Linked DNA regions of Homo sapiens. The protein of the gene in region 1 purifies or fractionates together with the protein of each later gene. This does not show direct contact. Each region holds a gene or a part of one and is shown on either strand. Other genes may lie near its edges. The genes, in order: ZNF277 and ACOT2.

The links.
Region 2: the proteins of ZNF277 (region 1) and ACOT2 purify together in Homo sapiens (affinity purification with mass spectrometry; one large-scale study listed by BioGRID and IntAct). This does not show direct contact.

Annotation. Positions count from the first base shown.
Region 1 is NC_000007.14:112,297,012-112,300,829, forward strand, and holds part of ZNF277 (zinc finger protein 277), read left to right. Parts: intron 1-3,818. UniProt on the Homo sapiens protein: Probable transcription factor. Involved in modulation of cellular senescence; represses transcription of the tumor suppressor gene INK4A/ARF, perhaps acting via the Polycomb group (PcG) complex PRC1.
Region 2 is NC_000014.9:73,567,534-73,571,451, forward strand, and holds the start of ACOT2 (acyl-coenzyme A thioesterase 2, mitochondrial), read left to right. Parts: upstream 1-1,679; 5' UTR 1,680-1,707; coding exon 1,708-2,350; intron 2,351-3,918. UniProt on the Homo sapiens protein: Catalyzes the hydrolysis of acyl-CoAs into free fatty acids and coenzyme A (CoASH), regulating their respective intracellular levels. Displays higher activity toward long chain acyl CoAs (C14-C20).

The DNA.
Region 1 (3,818 bases):
CCACCTCCTGGGCTCACACCATTCTCCTGCCTCAGCCTCCCGAGTAGCTGGGACTACAGGCACCTGCCACCACACCTGGCTAATTTTTTGTATTTTTAGTAGAGATGGGGTTTCACCGTATTAGCAAGGATGGTCTCGATCTCCTGACCTCATGATCTGCCCACCTCAGTCTCCCAAAGTGCTGAGATTACAGGCGGGAGCCACTGCACCCGGCTGAAAATTTTTATTTTCGTAAGTTAATCAGAAAGTAATTTTTTAAATTGTTACTTTTGTTTAAAAGTACATGGGTTCCCATTATTTGTGATTTAATCTCGACTATTACTTGAAGTTGACTTGCTGTTCCTTTAGTGATTTCTTGTAAGTCTTTCTTTTATCTTTGGACTTAGCTAAATATGTTATAAGAGAGAGAAATGATTTAAATATTTGTGCTATATCCTCAAGAGATCAAGGAGAAAAATAAATGCTATTTACCATAGTCATATAATTTAAGAAAGTCCCTGGAAGCATATTTTATTTTGTAGACATCCCAAATGATTATTTCTTCCAGTAGGGGAAGGTGATACCATTGGATGTTGATTTATATCTAAGAAAAGTTTTCCTGTACAACAACTGCAGTAAAGAAATAGGACTTCCTGAGTTTCTCTTCTCTCCTTATAGCAGTGTCTTATGAAATCTGCAAAACAAGGCTAAATTTACTATCATGTCTTATGGATGTTATTTGCGTGCACTTATTCATAATTTCCAATTTACATGAATTTTCTCACTGTTGCTAACAGTGGCCTTAAGAATGATCAAAAGATGTCATGATCCTAGTAGTCCTAAGGATTTATTTATAAGAACTCAAACCCTACTACTTCAGCCATTCTTGTTCTTTAGCATGCAGAATCTGTACGATGTGTCTGCAGATGGACTCAGGTCTCTAAAAATACCTACATATACTGCATTTAAGTTACCTTTTTTACTTTACAGTTTGATAGTGATACATTTAATGGAAGTGAGCATTATGCCAGCTTACAGAAACAAAAGAAGAATGAAAAGGCAATCAATCCATACATGCTCGTTGAATTTCTGCTTAAGTAGATGCCTATACAAAGAAGTACAAGAGTACAAGGCATAATCCATATCATACAAGAGTGTACGGTCTACTTAGAGAAGAAAGATAAATATGTATTCTTATCTTGGTAATAGAGATAATGATAAAATATCTTGCAGGGCTTATGAAGATTAAGTGACATGTAATATACTTAGAACACTACCTGGCACATAGAAGGCACTTAATAAATATTAGCCAATAAAAATAACAGTAATAATGCTGTGTCTTAACAATGAGAAGGATTTGGATAGTTAAGAGAGTTGTAGGGAAGGGAAGAAAGATACATATGCATCTAAATGTTCAAGGTGTATTCAGGAAAATCGAGTAAAAGTCTACTCCGGCTTAGATAGAAAAATTTTTATGGGGAGGAGTATGAGATAAATTTGAAGAGGTAAAATGGAGCTAAATTGTGGAAATCCTTCAGTGCCAGAAACTTGACTTTGTAGTAATAAAGACCCATTAATGTGCCCTCATTGTCCATCAGTGACATGAAGAAAAGAGTAAATGTAGCTGCGTATAAATCCATTTCAAGCTGTCAAAGCCTGAGAAAGACTAGACCAACTTGGGGATTGGAAGTAAGCTAACAATGACTGATGACCATCCATAAGCCATGCCTTGTATTTGGTTCTTGCTTCATAGCACCCTGTGAGGTGGCTATTAAATGCCGTTCTATTTATGAGTAAAATGTGGCCTAGGAAGCTTAATTTGCCCAGGAACACATAGTGAATGAGGTGCAGAGCTAGAGTTTCAAACCAAACATTCCAGGTACATGCCTTTTAAGCCATGCCATGCCAGCGTAGTCATTATTTGGCCTCTCATGTGTCTGGTACTACTATTCTAGGCTCTGGGAATCTCTCTGTCCTGGGTGCTCATGGTCTGACAAGTCTGTGTAGGGAGGGGATTCAGGCTTGGATTGAAGTTTAGGGAAAGCAGAGGCAGTTTACAATAGCCCGCCACTGGAATTCTGATTAGAGGATCAACAAAAAGTAAAAAAAGACTTGCCAAACAGCAGGAAGACAGGCTGAATTTGCCATCAGCCAGTTCATCACAATTTTATGCTACATAGTGTGGAAGCATGAGGTTAGTGTGGGTGATTCTTCTGTGGGCGTTAGCAATGATTATAGGATCTATCTCCTTTATAAAGAAAGAACTTTACAAATCAGTAAGAAGCATGTCCAGAAAGAAGTCTAAATCATTAAATGAAACAAAAGTAACAGTATACTTTTTCTTCTTCTATCAAGTTAACAGGACTTGAAAATAATAGTACTAAATGGTGGCAAGAATGTTAAGAGACAAGTACTTCTTCAGCTGCTTTTAAGAATGTAAACTGGTATACCATTTCTGAGAGGCACTTTCTCATCATGCATTGGAACTCGTGAAGATGTTTATGCCCTTGGCCCATAGTGTGCAAGAACTCATCCTAGGAAGACTTTACAGCCAGAGGGTTTTGAAGTCACTCACTCTACCACAGCTTGGTGGTTTTTTCCTTATGCTGCTACTAATTATACTTTATCAAACAATTTTTTATTAATCAGAATTTCATTCTAGTTTCTAAAACATGTAATTTAAACCAATCAAACTGCTTAATGATAATGGATGTATAATGTATTCAGTGTTTGAGTGACCCCAGCTCAATATTTCAACTCAAAGACTTTGAATTGAGGATCTTGAGGATCTCAACTTGAGGATCTCAACTCAAGTCCACGAGGAAGAACCCTCAAACTAGAGTATTAGTAGGGCATTTGCTGACTTGATTTGCATTAACGATGATTTGCATATGTATTATTCTTAAATATTTATTCTTTCATGTGGAACTCTAGGTAAAGCATATAGTTTAAGTACCTTTGTATGGTTTGCTCTTAGTTCAAAATGACTGTAACTTAAGGGCAGAAACTGTGTCTTATATTTAAACATCCTTCCTAGTCCTCCCTATACTCCTAAGTTCATATTGTTATTTTTCCCCAAACCTCATTTTAAACAAACAGACAAAACTCTGTTTTCTGTGTGAGTGGCTGGAGGTATATAGAGTTTAAATGATTCACTGAAAGTTACAGTAACAGATTTTATGCTAGAATCATATTTCTTTTTCCATTTCTTTGAGATTTCACTGGTTTCTTGACATTTGCAAGATTTGTATGTGTTCCCAGTTTTCTTTTTGAAGAGCTTGATTCCTACTTGACACTTCTTTGAATATTTTCATCCATATTCTGAAAGAAACTACAGAATTAGGAAGATTCTCGAGGATTTCAATAGCTTGAACACCTTCTTCCCTTTAGCTTCCTTTAAAAATTCTCCCGTGATCTTGGTGCATCATCCTCTTATTTCTCATCAGTCTAGCTTAGTCTTGTCCAGTGGTTCTTTTCCCTCTTTTCTCTTAAATGTGTATACATATGTTTCTCAAGATCTTATCACCTGTTCAGGGCATGCACATCTGTATAACTACCACTATTAGGCCTATGGCTTAAATGTTAGTGCTGGTGCAGAGTAGGCAGTCAGAGTAAATATTCATGAATTGAGTTCATCCATAGCTTTCATCCTGGTTCACTTCTGAGCCCCAAATCTATATTTCCTTATGTGAAACTTTTCCATTTGGATTTCCAGTCCACACTTTAATATGCCTAAAAACAGAACTTATTTTTTTCCTCCCCCAAAACTTGCTATTTGCCTGTTCTCCTTTTATTACATAATGACACCACCATTCTCCTGGTCACTCAGTTTGGAAATC
Region 2 (3,918 bases), on another chromosome or scaffold:
CAGCGCTCTGTAAAATGGACCAATCAGCAGGACATGAGCAGGGCCAAATAAGGGAATAAAAGCTGGTCACCCCAGCTAGTAGTGGTAACCTGCGTGAGTTCCGCTCCAGGCTGATGGAAGCTTTGTTCTTTTGTACTTCACAATAAACCTTGCTACTGCTCCTTCTTTGGGTCCATACTGCATTTCAGAGCTGTAACACCGTGAAGGTATACAGCTTCACTCCTGAAGCCAAGACCATGAACCCACTGAGAGGAACAAGAAAAACAACTCTGGACCTGCTGCCTTTATGAGCTGTAACACTCACCTTGAAGGTCTGTGGCTTTACTCTTGAAGTCGGTGAGAAGCGAGACCATGAACCCACCAGAAGGAACACATTCCGGACGCATCTGAACATCAGAGGAAACAAACTCCAGACACACTACTTTTCAGAACTGTATTAAGAACTGTAACAGTCACTGCGAGGGTCTGCGGCTTCATTCTTGATGTCAGCGAGACCAAGAATCCACCAGAAGGAACCAATTCCAGACACAGAATTATTTGCCTTCTTACTTCCTGAGAGTTCTAGGCACAGAACATACTTGAGGTGTTATACAAAGGTAATTAGAACTGACAGGGAATTGTATGATTAATGACGTGGGACATGAGAGATTTGGAACGAGATAAAAAGGCTTACCTTGAGGACAGCCTTATTAGGAGCAGAGGCAAACACAGGTTTTGTGGGTTTGAAGCCTACACATTTATAGCTTTCTCTAATTACACAGGTAGGAAATTATAAAATCAGGTACAAGGGCTTGGCAGGGGCCTAAAGCTTAAGTGATGAAAAAAAAAAACACCACACCTCTGGTGAAACCAATAGCTTACGAAAAAGTAGAAAAAAGCGCGATGCATGGGGAGCTCCGGTAGTCCTTTGAGGTATTTGAGAGGCTGAGTCAGGAAGATGGCTTGAGCACCAGGAGTTGGAGGTTTGTAAGTGCAGTGATGGTAAACTGCCGCTGTACTCCAGTCTGGCAATGTAGTGAGACCCTGTCTCTCAAAAAAAAAAAGTAACCCTTGCCTGACTGGGACAATAATTGAGAAACCAGTAAAACAAAATAATAACTATTAGCCGGGCGCGGTGGCTCATGCCTGTAAATCCTAGCATTTTGGGAGGCTGAGGCGGGCGGATTACAAAGTCAGGAGTTTGAGAAATTACTACCTATTACCCCATTTGGCTATTTTTACACTTGTAAGGAATGAAGCTCAGAGGTCACACAGCTAGTAAGAAGCCAGCACCCTTCGATGTGGGATTGATGTGGAGGATAGGCATATACAGAGAACACAAAAGCAAAACACCATGGTGCAGATTTTGAAAGAAAAGCCCTAAGATTAGTAATGAGTGTGAATTATTCAACAAAGTGATCAAAACTAACTCCAGCTCTGCATTCCTCTTCGCCATCAGGAGTTTGGAGCCTGGAGACTGCTAGCTGCCTGGTTCTTTAAGAACCAGCCCTGGTCCAGCCCATTCCGCAGGCCAGCAAGCTTCTGAAAAGCAAACCTAGGAAGTAGCTTTCCAACATAAAGTGGAGGTTTCAACACAGGAGACTTTAAGCAAGTTCCAGTGTGTCTATATTTGGTCTGGCTGATCGGCTGGACTCTGGCCTTCCCCGCTCACGTTAGCAGACAGCTCTGCCCTAGTGGGCGCTTAGCCTGCGACGGCAGCCCGAGAGGATGTCTAACAAGCTTCTTTCTCCCCACCCCCATTCAGTTGTTCTCAGGTCTGAATTCAAAATGGCCTCATCTCCTGCTGTCCTTCGAGCGTCCCGGCTGTACCAATGGAGCCTGAAGAGTTCGGCGCAGTTCCTGGGGTCTCCACAGCTGAGGCAGGTTGGTCAGATCATTAGGGTTCCTGCTCGGATGGCGGCGACGCTGATCCTGGAGCCTGCGGGCCGCTGCTGCTGGGACGAACCGGTGCGAATCGCCGTGCGCGGCCTAGCCCCGGAGCAGCCGGTCACGCTGCGCGCGTCCCTGCGCGACGAGAAGGGCGCGCTTTTCCAGGCCCACGCGCGCTACCGCGCCGACACTCTTGGCGAGCTGGACCTGGAGCGCGCGCCCGCGCTGGGCGGCAGCTTCGCGGGGCTTGAGCCCATGGGGCTGCTCTGGGCCTTGGAGCCCGAGAAACCTTTGGTGCGGCTGGTGAAGCGCGACGTGCGAACGCCCTTGGCCGTGGAGCTGGAGGTGCTGGATGGCCACGACCCCGACCCCGGGCGGCTGCTGTGCCAGACGCGGCACGAGCGCTACTTCCTCCCGCCCGGGGTGCGGCGCGAGCCGGTGCGCGTGGGCCGGGTGCGAGGCACGCTCTTCCTGCCGCCAGGTGACTCACCTCCGCTAATTGTTCCGTGTTCGTTCGCCTTTCACTTTGTGTGTCTCCCCCGCCCCACGCTTTTCGCTTATGTGTATGCCCCCCCGCCGCGCCCCCGGGCTATATTGCCCAGGCAGGTTTCGAATTCCTGGTCTCCAGCTATCTTCCCGCCTCTGCCTCCCTAAGAGCTGGGATTACAGGGTGAGCCACCGCGCCCGGCACTTTGAGGGGAGTTACACTTTTTTTTTTTTTCCGTCCCTGCCCTTTTCACACGAAGAAGGGATGTAGCTTCCAACCTTCCGGAGGTTAGTGTAAAGAAACAGGAATGGAATGGAAAGCTGATTGGGGAAGTGTCCCTGCCGCTCCAAAACTGAGAGGTCCCTCAAACCTAGTGCTCAGTTAAAAGACATTGTAAGGGCCAGGCGCAGTGGCTCACGCTTGTAATCCCAGCACTTTGGGAAGTCTCGGCGGGCAGATCACGAGATCAAAAGATTGAGGCCATCCTGACTAACACGGTGAAACCCCGTCTCTACTAAAAATACAAAACAGTAGCTGGGCGTAGTAGCGGGCGCCTGTAGTCCCAGCTACTCGGGAGGCTGAGGCAGGAGAATGGTGTGAACCCGGGAGGCAGAGTTTGTAGTGAGCTGAGATCGCGCCACTGCACTCCAGCCTGGGCGACAGAGCGAGACTCCGTCTCAAAAAAAAGACATTGTAAGGAAAGGAAAAAGACACTTATATTAAAAACAAAACAGGCCGGGCGCGGTGGCTAACGCCTGTAATCCTAGCGCTTTGGGAGGCCGAGGCCGGCGGATCACCTGAGGTCAGGAGTTCGAGACCAGCCTGGCCAACATGGTGAAACCCCATCTCTACTAAAAATAGAAAAATTAGCCAGGCGTGGTGGTGCATGCCTGTAGTCCCAACTACTTAGGAGGTTGAGGCAGGAGAATCGCTGGAACCCGGGAGGCAGAGGTTGCAGTGAGCTGAGATCATGCCATTGCACTCCAGCCTGGGGGACAAGAGTGACTCTATCTTAAAAAAAAAAAAAAAAAATTCAGGTAGTTTCAATTTTTTAATGTTCTTATTTATGTATTGACTAGGAAGCCACTTTTTTTTTTTTTTAAATAAGAATTCCGACTGGTTTTCTCACTGTATTTCCATGGCAGCTAGGAGGTGCCAGGTGGCTGGGCCTGTGACAGTGCAGAGGTTTTGGTGCCTGCCCGCCCACCATTGCTCCAGCTGCAGCTGCTGCCCCCTGCAGGGCCTGTTCGTTCCTGCTGCCTAGCTCCCCGCTGGCTGGCTATGATCTCCCTGTTACCATTCCAGGAGAGCAGCCGCGTCCCTATGCATGGCAGGACCAGGTACTATTGTGGCCTCTCCTCTTGGCCTCGAATGGTATCTTTGTCATCAGTGAGCAAGTCCCCAAAGACCACGGTCTTGTCCATTGTCAGGATAATTCACTCCACAAGCTGGGGCTCCAGGTGCTGCCCTACCCAGCGGTGCTTCTCACCCACACAGTGGTCATACTTTGGCAGGGGCTGGTGCAGTGTGAAGACCTCGGTGTTTTGCATGTGCTTCATCTC